2 separate regions of the Homo sapiens genome follow, and region 1 is linked to region 2. The links come from fine-mapping of genetic effects on gene expression. Tissue or cell type: atrial appendage. Region 2 holds a variant in brackets; the other region holds the start of a gene. All regions are shown on one strand. Distances are between the middles of the regions.

Region 1 (8,086 bases), 36 kb before region 2:
GGAGCTTGAGAAAAATCTCTTGAAGGTAGAGCCCCTGCTTCTGGCCTAGCTCTCCCGGAGGCGCAGGGCTGACGAGTGCCGCCAAGGTAAGACCAGCTCTGGAGTGTGGGATATACAGGCCTTCAGTGGCAACACCTGCTCATTAATCAAGCCCTTCCTTTCCGGAACCTGCCCTGGCTTGGGATGGTGGGAAGGAAGGAGAACAGAATCTGTTCCTCCCTTCCTGGCCCTGCGGTGAGAGGCGCTGACTAGTGTAGGTGGGTGGAGACAGGCCCATCAGAAGGCCTGAGTGAGGCACCCTCTGTACATGCAGCACAAGCGGGTGTGGAGTGTGGGGAAGCATCTAAAGATCTAGAAAAATTTGGCAGCAAAGGAATTTTACCCACACACTGGAGCCCTAGGCTTTGTTTCTAAAAGTTTTTATTATTCTTTAGGAAAACTTGGGAAGCACTAGTTTATGAAAATTTTTAGAACTTCATTGCTACATGGCCTTTCCAAACACATCCCCAGATGGTTTCTTTAAAACCATGCAGTGGGACAAGGTTGATATAAACAGTTGTTCCAGCTGAATCCAACTCACCAAAACGGTGCAGGTGAGGCAAATTACTTTTGAGACTGCAAGTACTGTATATGTCCATTAACAAAAACACAGTAAAAGACTTTAAGAAATTGTAAGGACACTGGCTTGACTGATTCATGCGGCTGCAAATCCCTGGGAGCCAAGATTCAAAGGCAGAAATGTCTGTGGTGACAGCACCACCACTGCCTTTGTCCAAATTACAGATCTGTCACACTCAGAGCTTGCTGCTAGCATGGGGCTGCCGTCGGCAGCAAAGGGAACTTCATGGATCTGTGAGGAGGAACAGCTGAGTTCCTGACTGCCTTTAATTTTCTCTGAGGCTTTGCTGAGTCACCTAATCTCTTGGGGCTGTGGTTTTCTCACCTGTAGAAGGAGGGACAGGGCTGATATCCCTAGAGTGCCTTTCAGCTCTGGGATTCACGCATTCTAAGGAGGGTGGCTAGAGCACAGAACCTCTAAAGATGTTCATTCATTCCTTCAACAAAGTTTACATGAGCACCTGCCATGTGCTAAGCACCAGGGCCGACCACTGGCCCAAAAACACAGGCATCTGCTGGCCTGCCCACTGCAGCAGCAGCCATACCTTTGCAGGCCGGTGGAGCCCCCCTTTCTACAGCCTGTGGAAAAAATGGTTCTAAATTTGCAGATCCTCTCATCAAATCAGGAAGTCAAGAAACATGATAGAATAGAGGAACTGGTCTCAGTTTGCACAGGCCATCAGTTTCACAAGACAGGAATCGAATATCAACAGTGGCTGATTATCACACTCAGGAATTGAAAATAATTAGAAAAAGAGGCAAAGATGCTGTGGCAATCATTGGCTGGTCCCCTTTGGTCTCCAGCACCCATTCCCCTTTGGTTTAGTAACAGCACCCTAACTTTCCTCCCTATATCGTGTGATAACAGAAGCACTCTCTCCAGGATACCCTCCCTGAGAGACAGGCATATGACCTGAGCCAGCCAATCAGACTCCTTCCCTGCAAGGATGCACTAGGTGGACAGCATGGTGGGAGCATCTCTCATCCAGGCAGGGGTGATCTGTGGGACTGCAGTCAGTCCTGTTGCTTAGAGACCCCAGGACTGCCATAGCTTCTGTCCTGGACTTGATTCTCCAGGCTAACAGAGAACCTGACTGATGCAGATTCAGGAGAGCTGGTTTGTTTAGTTCTCAGTTCCTTTCATGAAATGGCTATTATCTCTGCTAGCTACTATAGCAGAAATCTGGAAAACATGATTTTTCTTGATTTATGAAATTGTTGATGTTTCTTCAGGAATTTCCGCCTGCTTCTCATAAACTGGCAGAAACTTAGAAATGTTACATTTCTTAAAGAGAGTCATTGTAATTATTATCTGAATAAGATGATAGTGTTTTGAATTTAACGTAATAAACTCTATCTCCTGCCTTAGTGCCTTCACATCTTCATGTTGCCCCTCCCTCTAACAACATTTCTGAAAATTTGAAAGACATGAAGGAAGAAAAAGTGTTTTCCATATCCCCACATTGCCTTAAAGTGGACTTTGCAGAGGAAAATGTTCAAATATACAAGTTTTAGGTACTCTTCATAGCTCTTGGTTTTCTATTATTAGGGTTTGTTTGTTTGTTTGTTTGTTTGTTTTGAGACTGAGTCTCGCTCTGTTGCCCAGGCTGGAATGCAATGGCACAGTCTGCTCACTGCAATCTCCACCTCCCGGGTTCGAGCAATTCTCCGCCTCAGCCTCCTGAGTAGCTGAGATTACAGGTGCCCACCACCACACCCAGCTAATTTTTGTATTCTTAGTAGAGACGGGGTTTCGCCATGTTGGCCAGGCTGGTCTCGAACTCCTGACGTCAGGTGATCCACCCACCTCGGCCTCCCAAAGTGCTGGGATTACAGGCGTGTGCCACTGCGTCTGGCCTATTATTAGTTTTAAAAACATACATTCCTTTATTTTTACTTTTGTATTGTTTAAATACAACAGTACATGTTCACTGAAACAATGCAAGAGTGTAAAAAGTCCAAAGTGAAAGACCCCTCTCACCACCACTCCTATTTCCAAGGATAACCACATTGACAGTTTGCGGTTTAAACATACAGATATAGAAATATCTTTAAATAAAAAAACTTATATGAGATTATGCCATCTCATTTTCAAGTTAACATTGATAAACCTGGTCTTTTTGCTCAACTATCGTGGTCATCCTTCCTCATACATACGTATGTACATGCATACCGGTACACACATAGCTGGTACATACATACCGACTGACAAAACTCATTCATTTTAAGGCTGCAGATACTTCATTGCATGGGGATGTACCATCCTGTATAGATCTGTCACCCAATTAATCTGCCCAATTGATGCACATTTTGGTGGCTTCAAATTCTTTGCAGTTACAAACAGTGCTACCATGAATATTCTTATACAAATATCTTCAGGCCGATGTGCAACTATTTCTTAACTTGGATTCCTAGAAGTGCATTTGCTGGATCAAGTACATACACATTTTGAAATTTTGGTCAAGACTGTAAAATTGCCCTCCAAGAAGACTGTACCAATTCACTCTCCCACCTGCCATTTTTTTTTCACTGTATAATGACAGGGAGTGGTATATCCCTTTTGTTTTAGTTTGCATTTCCTGGATCATTCCTTAGTGAGACAGAGCAGAAGTGGATTATTTATAAGTTTACACACAAAATTACATTGAGATACAAAAAGAAGAAAAATACAGAGTTCCTCTCCAAAAGGAACTGATAACCTAGTTAAAGGGAAAATGTTTCATATTGACCACAAATTGAACTTTTTTTTTCTTTTGAGACAGAGTCTCGCTCTGTCGCGCAGGCTGAAGTGCAGTGGCACAATCTTGGCTCACTGCAACCTCCGCCTCCCGGGTTCAAGCAATTCTCCTGCCTCAGCCTCCCAAGTAGCTGGGATTACAGGCATGTGCCACCACGCCCAGCTAATTTTTGTATTTTTAGTGGAATGAGGTTTCACCATGTTGGCCAGGCTGGTCTCAATCTCTTGACCTCATGGTCCACCCGCCTCAGCCTCTCAAAGTGCTGGGATTACAGGCGTGAGCCACTGTGCCTGGCCACAAATTGAAATTCTTATGTTTAATGCCATGACATCTAACACTGCGTTCAATCAAAATGTCTACGCATGCAGCTTGAGACCTTTGCACAGAAGGTGCCTAGGGTCATGATTTGGGAAGATTAATCTGCCATCAGTGGAGGGGTGGATAAAAACTAATGTTTATTGGGATCAAGATGAGCAGTCTCTGTGCCAGAAACTTTATTCCTTTAATTTCCACAGCCCTGTGAGGCAGGTGAAATCATCCCCATTTTATGGATGAGGAAATTGAAGTTCAATTGGTTCAATAACATGCCAAAGGTCACTCAACTGATGAACAGTGGAGCTGAGATGCGGAAGACTGAAGACTCACAGCCTGGACTTTTAACCAAACACCACATGGCTTCGCTACAGAAGAAAGTTAGAAAGTTTTCAAAAATAAAATGTAGAGCCAAGTGCCACCTTGGATATAAGGGACTGGGGGACGGGAAGAGGCAAGAACTCCCAGGCTTCCCTCTGGCTGTCAATAGCTAGTGGGTCCTGGCAGTGGGAGCTGGGCCATCAGAGGTGGCGCCTGAAGTGGGGCAGGCACAAAATGGGTTTTCGGGCAAGCATTTGCCCAGGTGATGGTCAAAGCCACAGAAAAAAGGTGTTTTGATGGAGTGGTGGCTGAGTGTGGGGAGAGATGAGCAGGGGACCAAGCCTGGAGCTTGGGCAGCCCACGATTGGACACTAGGAGAAGAAAAGAAGCCAGTGGAGGAGACACTGAGGCTAGGGATGGGGAGGGCACTGTGGAAGGCTGGGCTCCACCTGGCGCTCCGGGGAGCTGGCAGGGGGGCACATCAAGGAGCTCAAGCTGCCTCACCAGCAAATGCCTCTGTTTCTGACCAGGGGCAATGAAATAAAGGGACCCGGTTGAGTAACTGGTTTCTGGTCCCTGCCAGCCCAGGAAGCCAGCACCCACCCTGCCTTACATCCCATGTGCCACTCTCAGCCTTCGAAGCAAAACCAGCTGAGACCAGCACCTGCCAGATCTGAATGCGCAGCTCCAAGTTCTGGGGGGTGGGGGTGGGGGTGAGCCAAGGAGGTCTGGCTTCTCTAGGGCAAGGGTAGGAAGGACAGCAGGGAGGCTCACCCTGAGCCCGGCAGGCAGCCCTTCCTCCTCCTCCCCTTCAGCAAAGAAAGGCAGATAAAAACGTGTTTTTATAAATAGCTCCAGCCCCAGCTGATTTGTAAATTCAGTGGGTTTTTTGTGTCAATGACATCACCTTCCTCCCCATGGCAACCCCCGACGATATCAAAATTGCCAAGCAACGTTGGAGCAGCTCGGCGCCCCAAACGAGCAGGTCGATGCCTGAGGATTTAATGGAGAAATCCCAAAGTGAGCCGGGGCGCGCGGTGGAGGAGGGGCGCGCCGCAGCCGGGGCCGCTGGGCCCTGATGGGCGGGAGCGGGGTGGAGCGGCCTCGCCTGCCAGGCAGCCCTGGGCGCGGGGCTCGGCGGCCACACTCTGGAGACAGCCACGGTCCAGGCAGGTGGGGGAGGGCGCTGCTCCCGTCCTGATGTGCCAGGAGCCGCCAGCAGCCATCCAGGTGACTAAGCCGGCCCACTAGCACTGAGTCACCGCCCGCCTCGAGCTGTTCTTGCTTCTCCTTTGCATCTGATTATTTTGGGAGCTGGAAACTTGGAGCTGCACCTGAGTCCCGCCCCTTCTAGCTCTCCCCTCCCTACCTTGGGCTCCAGGAAGATGGGACTTGCTGTGAGTCTGCTGCCACCCCCTAAAGATATGGAAGACGCTGTGGGGGCCAGAAGTGCCCGGGGGGCTGTGGCAGCAGGCAGAGTGCAATAGCAGATATGGTGGTCAGGCTGCCTGTGTGTGTCCTCTGGAGGTGTTGGGACAGAAGGGCAGTCTTGTCCGAGCTGACTGGAGTCCTCCCGGGCTGGCTCTGAACTCATCTCCCACGGGGATGTTTCGGTAAAGGAGTGGCTTCTGGGGTCGGAGTGGCATTTGGAGAGCGAGGCTGGATTGGCTTAGGCTGGCCTGGGCAGGTAGGTGGCTCTGTGTTGGGTGTGGACCCACGTGTGTGTGAGTGCGAGAGTGTGTAAGCCAGTGTGTGTGCCGTCCCCCTGCTGGGGACAGCAGCTGGGTCCAGCAGAGAGCTGGCTGGGGGCTTGACAGGAGTTTATCCTAACTGATGCTGGGTGGGCGCAGGCCCTGAGATGGGCGTCAGGGAGAGGGGACGCCAGACACACGGCCTGAGCAGGGTGAGGAGCAGCTGCCAGCCCCGGCAGGCCCAGGCCCTGTCTGGGTGCACAGGACAGAGACACAGCAAGATGCCCAGGTAGGAAGCCGTCCGGAGGGGCTGGCCAGGGTGAGAGCCCATCACTGGGGGGCTGGACAGCCCATCAGCTGCCCCTTCATTCTGGCAGGCCTGGGTACCAAGGAAACAGCTTCCTACCAAGAACCATGTCACTCTCTTATGCAGGGCCAGTCAGCACCCATGTGCGTCTCTGCTGAGCTCACAGGGACACATTCAGTGAGAAGGGTGCTGGCCAGGGTACGGCTTCCCCATGATCAGGACCCAGCGGGTGCCACCCTCAAGCCCCTGGTCCCCACAGGGCATGCCCCAGTGTGTGTCAGGAGGAGGGGGGAGGTCCCTTCTCCCCCACACAGCTGGCAGCTTTGCGGGCACCAGTGAGTAAGCTGCCAGAGGGAGGGAGGCTGTGTGCCCACAGTGGCAGGACAATACCAACCAGGAGCCTTCAAGAGAAGAGGCTGGGTGAGAAAAGCACTGAGGTTTTCTTTTCCTTTTTTTTTTTTTTTTTTTTTCTATTTTGCCTGAAGGGAGTGCCGCTTCCTGGGCTAGAGACAAGCACCAGCCTGCAGTGGAGAACGCAGGACCCCGCTGCCCAGAAGGAGCAGCCACGGTAAGGTCCCCACTGCCGCTGCGTGCTCCGGATTCCTGGGCTAGGGACGGGGGTGCCAAGGTGTCCAGGCTGCCTCCCACCTGGGACAGGGAGGCTAACTCCACAGCTGTGGGTTCCTGGGTCAAGGGGCTCCACTCCCCACCCGGCCTGCCACCTTCTTTCCAGATTGATTGTGAAACAGTCCAATCCCAGCTGGTCTCTGGCTCCCTAGCTAGAGGGAGAGGTGCTTGTTTCTACTCTTCCTGCCCCAGCTGGGCCAAGCCAGTGCCACCGGGACACCCCTATCCAAGGCCCCTCTCACTTTACCACCTCTGGGACATTTCCCTTGTGTATTCATTCCACAAATATTTAGGGAGCACTGCTGGGTCCCAGGCTCCAAGTCACACCCTTTGGCTGGGTTTGACCTGGCACAGATTCTGACTCTGAAACTCAGCATCAGGGCAGGTTCAGGGAGCTGCCTGGCCAAGCACGGTCACTCCTCACAGGCCTTGGTCTCCCCACCCCTGCTGCAGGGTGGATGACCTGGTCAGCTTTGGGGACATCGGGCCCAGTGAGCTCGGGTTTATAAAGCACTGGGCCCCACCGGGAAGCAAGGCTAACGTCTTGTGGTCTCCAGTTATCCTTTCCCTGGCATTGTACACCAAGAGGTTTGTGCCGTTCTGCCTGGGGTCTTCCTGAGGCTGGTTCTGGTGGGAACTGGGCTGCAGGAGGAGAGGATGAGCTTAGGAGCCGTGTGGCCCCCAGGCCTGGTGGGCCTGGGACTCAGCCCCACGGGAGCTCATCTAGCTGGGGTTGAGGCCTTTGGGGCAAGCAAGGAGTCCCCTCTGCAGGCAGGCTTCCCTGGCGGTTGTCCTGGCCCAGGCTTGGAGGTGGCACCTGGGAGCCCTAGTGACAGAGCGCCTGGTCAGGGAAGGGTCGGCACCAGAGGCAAGCCCTTCTGGGAGCAGCTGATTTGGATGGAAGCTCTGTGCACCTGAGAGGGGGAGTGTGGGGACTGCACGGCCTCTCCAGTGCCCCGAGGACAAACTGATGCTTTGTGAGTGCTCTGGGCCCTCCCGGACTTGCCAGACACAGGGAGGGTGCAGTGGGTGGGGTCTCCAGCCAAGGAAAGCCCGCTCTGTGCACAACTCCTAAGGATGACCAAAAAGTCCCCTGCCCTGGAGGAGCACATGTGCTCAGAGTCAGGAGGAACCCATAAGTGTCTCTCATGCCAGTGAATTCCCACACCTGGCTCCTGGATGAGGAGAATGACCCAGCTGTGGGGGTATCTCATGCTGCCTCACAAAAGGTGACTCTGTGCCTAGGAGTCTTCCATGCATGCAGAGCTGAGCAGGGGCTGCTGCCCAGTTGGGGTCAGAGGGGCGGAGGCTGTCGAGCACTAGGTAGACAGCAGGCCAGCAGCGGGCAGCAGGTTGGGCCAGGAGGGAGCAGAGAGTAGGGGCCAGGGCAGGCTGAGCAGGAAAGGAAAAGGCTGCCTGGGGTCCTGAGGGCTCAGGGAGGACTCCAGACAGCTGGCCTTCTTATGCCAGCC
Region 2 (8,100 bases):
CAAAGTATGTTCCATGGGCCTCCTAGGACCCAGGGACCTTGTTCAAATGCAGTCTCTGCTCTAGGCTCCCACCGAATCAGGCTCTGAGGCGGGAAGTCTGCGGTTTCTCTAGCTCCCCAGATCTCTGCACACGTCCCTGCATTGTAGTGGAGACAGGCTCAGAGAGGATGACTTGCCTAAGGCTCATCACAGGGCAGAGCAGCCCAGGGCTGGGCCCCAGGTCCTGACAGCCCAGTCCAGGGGTCCCACTGCTCCACTACACAGTGGATGGTGACAGTGTCACAGTGTCACAGTGGATGGTGACAGTCAGGTGCTGGCGAGGACATGGGAGAATGTTTACTGTCCAAATGTACTCATCAGGGATGGAGTGAGTCCAGGCAGTCCTGGGAGGATTGCTAGCTTCTTTCCTGTGAAGGTCAAGCACACACTCGGGTGGGCAGGCAGGTGTGGGGGTGGCAGAAGTCTGCCCCAGCATGGCTGTCGGCCAGCAGGAGTGCCTATTCCACCCTAAGCAGGCCAGGGACTTGGCTGGAGAGTAGAAGCCCTGAAGCTGCGGGGGGTCGGGGAAGGAAGGGAGTGAGGGTTGCCAAAGACACTGAAAAGACTCTGGTGGGGCCCAAGGCCCAGATTTGGGGTTTGGGGTCCCTGAGCAAGCATCCCAGCCCAAACTTACTGCTTGAGATTTCCTGTAAGTTGTTTCAGCTATGGGATCAGGACCAGGACCCACTGGGCACCTAAGACAATGGCTTACATGATGGGTTTGGAGAAGTTCCTAGAAGGCTTTTTCTGCATCCCCTGAAGCATCCCTCTCCAGGTGCCCTTTAAAAACACGTAATCCCTGGGAGGGGTCATGGTGCATATCACCGCTCCTTGGGGAGAACCCAAAGATGGGCGGGCACCTTTCCTGTCAGAAAGAGCAGAAGGGCTTGGGCTCGGAAAAGCAAGAAGCCTCGCAGGCTTCCAGGGCTGGGCCTGAGCAGGGCTCACTGGGGGCCCAGGCTGCCCCTCAGCTCCACCTTCCCTTCCTCCCTCCCTGCCAGAGCCAATGAGGATAGGCCCCCTACCTTCTCCTCCCTCCCGGGGGCTCCTTAGCCAGGAGTTTCATGCCAGGGAGGAAGTGGAAGGACTCCTTTAGGGGGTCCTTAAGACATCTCCCCATCCCTGGCCTCAAGGCTTGGGTTTGGCTGGACCTACCCTCCTAACTCCAGATCTCTCTGGCACCAGATTCCCAGCCCAGGGGAGACACCTGAGAACCCCCCAGATGGTGACACACCTCTGTGGTCCTCTGTCAGGGACATAACCTCCCAGCACAGATTTGCAAACTCCCTGCTGCAGGCACAGGCAGGGCTATCGGGCCCCAGGTGTGGCTCCCCTGCCTTGGTTCAGGGAGTGGAGACACAGTTGCCCACTGCTCCCCACCCCACTGCCAGGCCTCTTCTGCCCCCATGGGTCCTGGGGTGGGGGAGCCTTGGGAGTGAAGAATGCCTCTGACCCAGATTCTTCAAGCAGCCTCTGAGCTCAGAGGAAGAGTCTGCCTCACGGCAGCCTCCCTGGGGTCTAGCTGTCAATCGCCCAGGAAGAAATACCCAGCGCAGGACCCGGCGGGGAGCTGGCCTTCTCTGTCTTCCCAGGTGCAGCAGAGCGAGTGTAAGGAGCTGTCTTGGGCCTGCCCAGCCTGGTGCCCTGCGGGGGACTGCTGGCACAGGACTGTGACTGGGCTTCAGCTCTGTCTGAAAATCTTTGCTCAGAGCACCTCCCTAGTTTGATCTGATACCCCGCCTGACCCTGCCAGAGTCCAGAGGTCACGGCGGCCAGCCCCTGCCTCCGGGAAGGTTATTCCAAATGCTCCCACAGCCCTGACCCTTCCTGTTGCTTTGTCCCTGCAGCCCAACTCCTCTTTCCGACCGCCGCAGAAAGACAACCCCCCAAGCCTGGTGGCCAAGGCCCAGTCCTTGCCCTCGGACCAGCCGGTGGGGACCTTCAGCCCTCTGACCACTTCGGATACCAGCAGCCCCCAGAAGTCCCTCCGCACAGCCCCGGCCACAGGCCAGCTTCCAGGCCGGTCTTCCCCAGCGGGATCCCCCCGCACCTGGCACGCCCAGATCAGCACCAGCAACCTGTACCTGCCCCAGGACCCCACGGTTGCCAAGGGTGCCCTGGCTGGTGAGGACACAGGTGTTGTGACACATGAGCAGTTCAAGGCTGCGCTCAGGATGGTGGTGGACCAGGGTGACCCCCGGCTGCTGCTGGACAGCTACGTGAAGATTGGCGAGGGCTCCACCGGCATCGTCTGCTTGGCCCGGGAGAAGCACTCGGGCCGCCAGGTGGCCGTCAAGATGATGGACCTCAGGAAGCAGCAGCGCAGGGAGCTGCTCTTCAACGAGGTGGGAGGACAGGGTGGGACACAGACGGGGGCGTTGGGGATGGGCAGTGAGCAGCCAGCCAGGCTGGACATCTGTGAGCAGGGGCAGTGGGTGGCCATGCGTCTGGGCACTGTGCCTGGCACTCAGGCCCCCGCCTGCCCCCAGGTGGTGATCATGCGGGACTACCAGCACTTCAACGTGGTGGAGATGTACAAGAGCTACCTGGTGGGCGAGGAGCTGTGGGTGCTCATGGAGTTCCTGCAGGGAGGAGCCCTCACAGACATCGTCTCCCAAGTCAGGTGGGCAGCTGGGAGGGCTGGACCCTGAGTGCAGGCTGCCCTCACCATGGCCCTGCCAGGGCAATGTGGTCTTCTGCCTGTGGCCCAGAAGACTTGGGATGCCTGGGCTCCCCTGCCTGCTGGGGTAACTGAGACCCAGGGGTCTTGGGAGTGGAGAAGAGAAGGATAGCTTCTAGCCAAAGCTCAGGCCCCAGTTTTCACCAGGGCTATGGCCTGACTGTGCTGCCAAACAGATTGCCTGGGAGCTGTGGGGCCTAGCACCAGGGACTCCTACTCTGCTCAGCCACCCCACGACCTGCCAGAGCTAACGTTCTCTTTCATCGGGTGGCCCCACCTTCCTGTCCAGGCTGAATGAGGAGCAGATTGCCACTGTGTGTGAGGCTGTGCTGCAGGCCCTGGCCTACCTGCATGCTCAGGGTGTCATCCACCGGGACATCAAGAGTGACTCCATCCTGCTGACCCTCGATGGCAGGGTAGGTCCCATCCTGTCCCTGGCACAGCCACGCTCCCACTTCCTCCTGATCCACCACTCACTCCCTTTTCAACCGCAGGTGAAGCTCTCGGACTTCGGATTCTGTGCTCAGATCAGCAAAGACGTCCCTAAGAGGAAGTCCCTGGTGGGAACCCCCTACTGGATGGCTCCTGAAGTGATCTCCAGGTCTTTGTATGCCACTGAGGTAACCGTTCCCTCCACCCCCCAGACCTCCCAAAAGCAACTTGGCAACTGGCAGCTCTTCTGCTGTGGCCCCTCCAGTGAGCTCACCAAAAGCAGCCCTGGTTTTCAGAGTCCCACCTAGTCAACACCCTTCCCCCTTTCGATGGGGCTGCTCTTACCCAGTGACTTTGCTGCCAGGAACGAGTCCTGCAAGTGCTTTCCTCAGCTCAAGGGCAGAATGGGGTATGGCCGGGCCTCCTATGTATGATGGCCTTTCTCTGAGTGACTGACAGCTGTGTCCCTATAGGCAGTGGTCACTCATGCAGGCAGTAACTGGCCACAGGGCAGGTGACCAGGGGAGGAAGGAGACAGACCCACCAAGGAGAGCTGGGGCCAGCTGTCCCCCCTCCACCACTGCTGCCACCAGAACGCAGCTACCAATGGGCCAGGGTCTGGCCATGGGGTCAGGGACATTTTCCTCCTGCAGGTGGATATCTGGTCTCTGGGCATCATGGTGATTGAGATGGTAGATGGGGAGCCACCGTACTTCAGTGACTCCCCAGTGCAAGCCATGAAGAGGCTCCGGGACAGCCCCCCACCCAAGCTGAAAAACTCTCACAAGGTCAGTTGGCACACAAGGGTGCGACCTCGCAGACCCCATTCCTCCTGAGGCAAGGGGACCAGAACCTGGGCTCCCAGCATCTCCCTTCCACTGAAGCCACAGGGTCTGGGCTCCTGGAAAAGGCTCCTCTTTCCCCACACAAAACCCGCACCTGGGTGTGGAGCCGCATCTACGCACAAGTTCGCATGTGCGCTCCGACAAGTCGCCTCCCACGGCTGTGGCAGGAGAGTTGCTGCTTGGCAGAAGGGTTGCTGCTTGGCAGGCACTGGTCGGAAGCCCAGTGGGGCCCATGAGCAGGGAAAGCCAGGACACCAGCAATCCCTGCTGTCCAGGGAGGGATCCGGAGAAGCTTCACTGAGCACAAACCCTTCTAACCCGTGTCGGGAGATCCATACCATGATTCGATGTCCCTGTCCATCACGGCGAGTCGGCTCATGCTCCATCGTTGCACACCCCGACACAGCTAAGCCACAGCGTTCCCCTTAAAGCCAGTATAAGTGCATGGAAGTGTATACATGTAACCCTTTTTGCCAAATCGGCCCCAACCCCGCAGGCCTTACTGTGGACGCCCCCTGCTGGCAGGTCAGCACGGGGCTGCTAAGTGGCACCGCCATCTGGTGGCCAAAACAAGAAATGTCTCAGAGGGCTGAAGCCTCTCCTCTAAAATAGCAAAAAAACAAGAGTTCTGTGGCCCCAACACAAAGCTGGATGGGAGGACCAACAGGAAACATCTTCCAAGACAACTGGTCCTTGGAGCCCGCACCGCTAACCCCAAAATTAGCATATAAAGATCTCCAGTTGGCTAATTCCTCAGAGGATGTAGCCTTCTGCCCAAGACTCAGCCTCATCCCAAGATACTGGCTCAAAATGAACCAAGATAAGCCCTTGC[T/C]TTAGACTCTTAAGGCCTAGAGCAACAAAGAAATCTTCCTTTTCAGGTCTCACTTTATTTTCTATTTTTCAGAGTACTTCCTCATCCTTGACTTGTTTGTTTCTGTTGTTGTTGGTTTTTTTTTTTTTTTTTTTTTTGGAGATGGAGTCTCTCTCTGTTGCTCAGGCTGGAATGCAGTGGTGCGATCTCAGCTCACTGCAACCTCCGCCTCCTGGGTTCAAGCAATTCTCCTGCCTCAGCCTCCTGAGTAGCTGGGATTACAGGCACGTGCCACCATGCTCAACTAATTTTTGTATTTTTAGTAGAGACAGGGTTTCGCCATGTTGGTCAGGCTGGTCTACGAACTCCTGACCTCGTAATCTGCCCAACTTGGCCTCCCAAAGTGCTGGGATTACAGGCTTGAGCCACTGCGCCCAGCGACCTGTTTTTAAAATCTCAAAAGCCCTATGTGGCAGACAGGGCAAGCATACTTTATCACTAGCCCATTTTACAGATGAGAAAACTGAGGCCTAGAGAAAACTGTGACTTGCCTGAGATCACGGATAGAGCCAGATCTGGATCACTGATGCCAATCCTCTGCCCCTTCCACAGAGCTATAGCATCTGAATGCTGAGAGCCTTGAGGGGGTGGGGAGGGACAAGGGAACAGGAAGTTAAAAAACCAGCGAATTCATGACTTTCAAACAATGATAAGTCCAGGCAATCAGGTCACCCCGAAGTGACTGCAAATTGTGGCTTCATCTTACTGCCCTGCCTCTACAGGTCTCCCCAGTGCTGCGAGACTTCCTGGAGCGGATGCTGGTGCGGGACCCCCAAGAGAGAGCCACAGCCCAGGAGCTCCTAGACCACCCCTTCCTGCTGCAGACAGGGCTACCTGAGTGCCTGGTGCCCCTGATCCAGCTCTACCGAAAGCAGACCTCCACCTGCTGAGCCCACCCCAAGTATGCCTGCCACCTACGCCCACAGGCAGGGCACACTGGGCAGCCAGCCTGCCGGCAGGACTTGCCTGCCTCCTCCTCTCAGTATTCTCTCCAAAGATTGAAATGTGAAGCCCCAGCCCCACCCTCTGCCCTTCAGCCTACTGGGCCAGGCCGGACCTGCCCCCTCAGTGTCTCTCCCTCCCGAGTCCCCAGATGGAGACCCCTTTCTACAGGATGACCCCTTGATATTTGCACAGGGATATTTCTAAGAAACGCAGAGGCCAGCGTTCCTGGCCTCTGCAGCCAACACAGTAGAAAAGGCTGCTGTGGTTTTTTAAAGGCAGTTGTCCACTAGTGTCCTAGGCCACTGCAGAGGGCAGACTGCTGGTCTCCACAGATACCTGCTGTTCTCAGCTCCAGCTTCAAACCTCGAGTCTCGAGAGGGCCACGGGGTGGTTTTTATGACCGGAATCCCGCTTCCTCCCTCACGTCTGATGTCCTGAAGGTGCAGTCCCACCTGTACAGCCCCTCCCCGCCCAGAACTGTGAATGGCCTGCTCCAGGCCATGGCTGGGGGCAGGGAGTGAGGGGACAATTTCTGAGTGAAAGAGAAAGAATGGGGTCGGTGGTGAAGGTGCTCTCACTTTACAGAATGGAGAGAACATCGTGTGTGTGTGTGTGTGTGTGTGTGTGTGTGTGTGTGTGTAAGGGGAGGAAAGCCACCTTGACAGCCCAGGTCCCTCCAGGTCACCCACAGCCAGTTTCAGGAAGGCTGCCCCTCTCTCCCACTAAGTTCTGGCCTGAAGGGACCTGCTTTCTTGGCCTGGCTTCCACCTCTCCACTCCTGTGTCTACCTGGCCAGTGGAGTGGTCCATGCTAAGTCTAACACTCCTGGGAGCTCAGGAGGCTTCTGAGCTTCTCCTGTACTGTGCATCGTGAGGGCCAGAGACAGGAATGTAAGGATTGGCAACTGTGTTACCTTTCAAGTTTATCTCAATAACCAGGTCATCAGGGACCCATTGTTCTCTTCAGAACCCTATCTGGGAGAGAAGGCGAACCACCTCCGGGTTTCCATCATGTCAAGGTCACAGGCATCCATGTGTGCAAACCATCTGCCCCAGCTGCCTCCACAGACTGCTGTCTCCTTGTCCTCCTCGGCCCTGCCCCACTTCAGGGCTGCTGTGAGATGGAATTCCAGGAAAGAACTTCAGGTGTCTGGACCCTTTCTATCTAGATAATATTTTTAGATTCTTCTGCTCCCTAGTGACCTACCTGGGGGCAAAGAAATTGCAAGGACTTTTTTTTAAGGGTCAGAGTTTTCAAAACAAAAGCATCTTCCCTAGAAATTTTTGTGAATTGTTTGCACTTGTGCCTGTTTTAAATTAAATTGAGTGTTCAAAGCCATTGGGCTTCCTGTGTCTCTGGGAGCGGAGACCGGCCGTCTTGGAGGGGGGTCTCCTGTGGCGGGTGAATCTCGTGTAGCCTCCCCTCCTCCCCACGTGAGCTCTCCAGCAGCCACACCACAGAACACCCAACTTCCCTGGTGGCCTGTGGACCCGAAAGGAGGGCAGAGAGGAAGGGAAACAGGAAGTGAAAGGCCCTTGGGAATGAAGGCGATGAAAAATAGACGGGGCTACTTCCCCAGGGGAGAAGAGCCCACAAGGAAAGCCAGGGCCCTGCGCTGCGTTTGCGGGGGGTGGCCGAAGTGGCTGACGACCACCCTGTGTGTCAGCTTCTCCCATCCTCTGCGCGCTCCTCACCCCCACCCCAGACCTCCAGCTGTCCATAGGAAGTGGTCTGAAACCGCTTCCAGTGGGAGAGCAGTCCCTGCCTCACTCCTCAGGACTGAGGGAGATGGTGTGGGGTTCAAAAAGAACGGAGCAGAGCCTGGAAACCAGGGAGCCTGGGCTTTCGTTCTGGGGGTGGGGAGGTGGATGAAATTATCTTGCAACTTCCAGCTCCCACACGGATTCCCGCACTTCCTTCCTGAGATCTCCCACTGCCCAGGATTCAGGAGCAAGCCAGGAGCAAGGAACCATGCAGCCTTTCTTTCACTCCCCAGTGCATTCACACCCTGACAGGTGCCCTGGTGCTGCGGCTGGCCCGGCCTGTCCCCCCAGCTCAGCAGAAGCAGCACCTGTGACTTACCTTCAGGAGCCAGCACAGTAGGACGGGCAGGGCGGAGGCTCACTAAGGCAGGGGCCTCCACAGGAGGCAAAGGCTCGGTCCATCTCTCCAAAGGGAGCCGAGGGTCAGGAGTGCTTGATAAGGCAAAGAGAGGCCAGTTCTCGCAACGGAATAATACACTGGATTTATTAACTATTCTTTGAGTTCTAACAGTCCTTCCACCACAC

Direction of the effects. Alleles are on the strand shown, and positions count from the first base shown. SD is a standard deviation of normalised expression in the study named.
In carriers of allele T in region 2, the expression in atrial appendage of the gene that starts at base 4,937 in region 1 tends to be higher than with C alone (small effect, 0.13 SD a copy in GTEx).

The links. PIP is the estimated chance that this variant, and not a neighbour inherited with it, causes the effect.
Region 1: PAK6 starts here. The variant in region 2 is fine-mapped to the expression of PAK6 in atrial appendage (GTEx, PIP above 0.99).

What each region holds. Positions count from the first base shown.
Region 1 is chr15:40,234,127-40,242,212 of GRCh38, forward strand. PAK6 (p21 (RAC1) activated kinase 6) reads left to right here and starts at 4,937. Exons shown (of 11, transcript NM_001395430.1): 1 at 4,937-5,676; 2 at 6,473-6,555. The region is part of intron 1 of BUB1B-PAK6 (BUB1B-PAK6 readthrough); the gene reads left to right. It overlaps LOC107984763 (a long non-coding RNA gene), which reads right to left and starts at 5,575. Exons shown (of 3, transcript XR_001751506.2): 1 at 5,359-5,575.
Region 2 is chr15:40,270,338-40,278,437 of GRCh38, forward strand. It overlaps BUB1B-PAK6 (BUB1B-PAK6 readthrough), which reads left to right. Exons shown (of 10, transcript NM_001128629.3): 5 at 1,887-2,384; 6 at 2,529-2,662; 7 at 3,009-3,135; 8 at 3,214-3,339; 9 at 3,805-3,939; 10 at 5,590-7,150. The coding sequence ends at 5,757. It overlaps PAK6 (p21 (RAC1) activated kinase 6), which reads left to right. Exons shown (of 11, transcript NM_001395430.1): 6 at 1,887-2,384; 7 at 2,529-2,662; 8 at 3,009-3,135; 9 at 3,214-3,339; 10 at 3,805-3,939; 11 at 5,590-7,150. The coding sequence ends at 5,757. ANKRD63 (ankyrin repeat domain 63) reads right to left here. Exons shown (of 1, transcript NM_001190479.3): 1 at 8,035-8,100. Among named protein-coding and RNA genes, the nearest start is that of ANKRD63, 8.7 kb to the right of the region's middle. RefSeq lists enhancers at 2,377-2,878, 3,600-4,100. The variant T/C (reference allele first, on the strand shown) is at 4,829.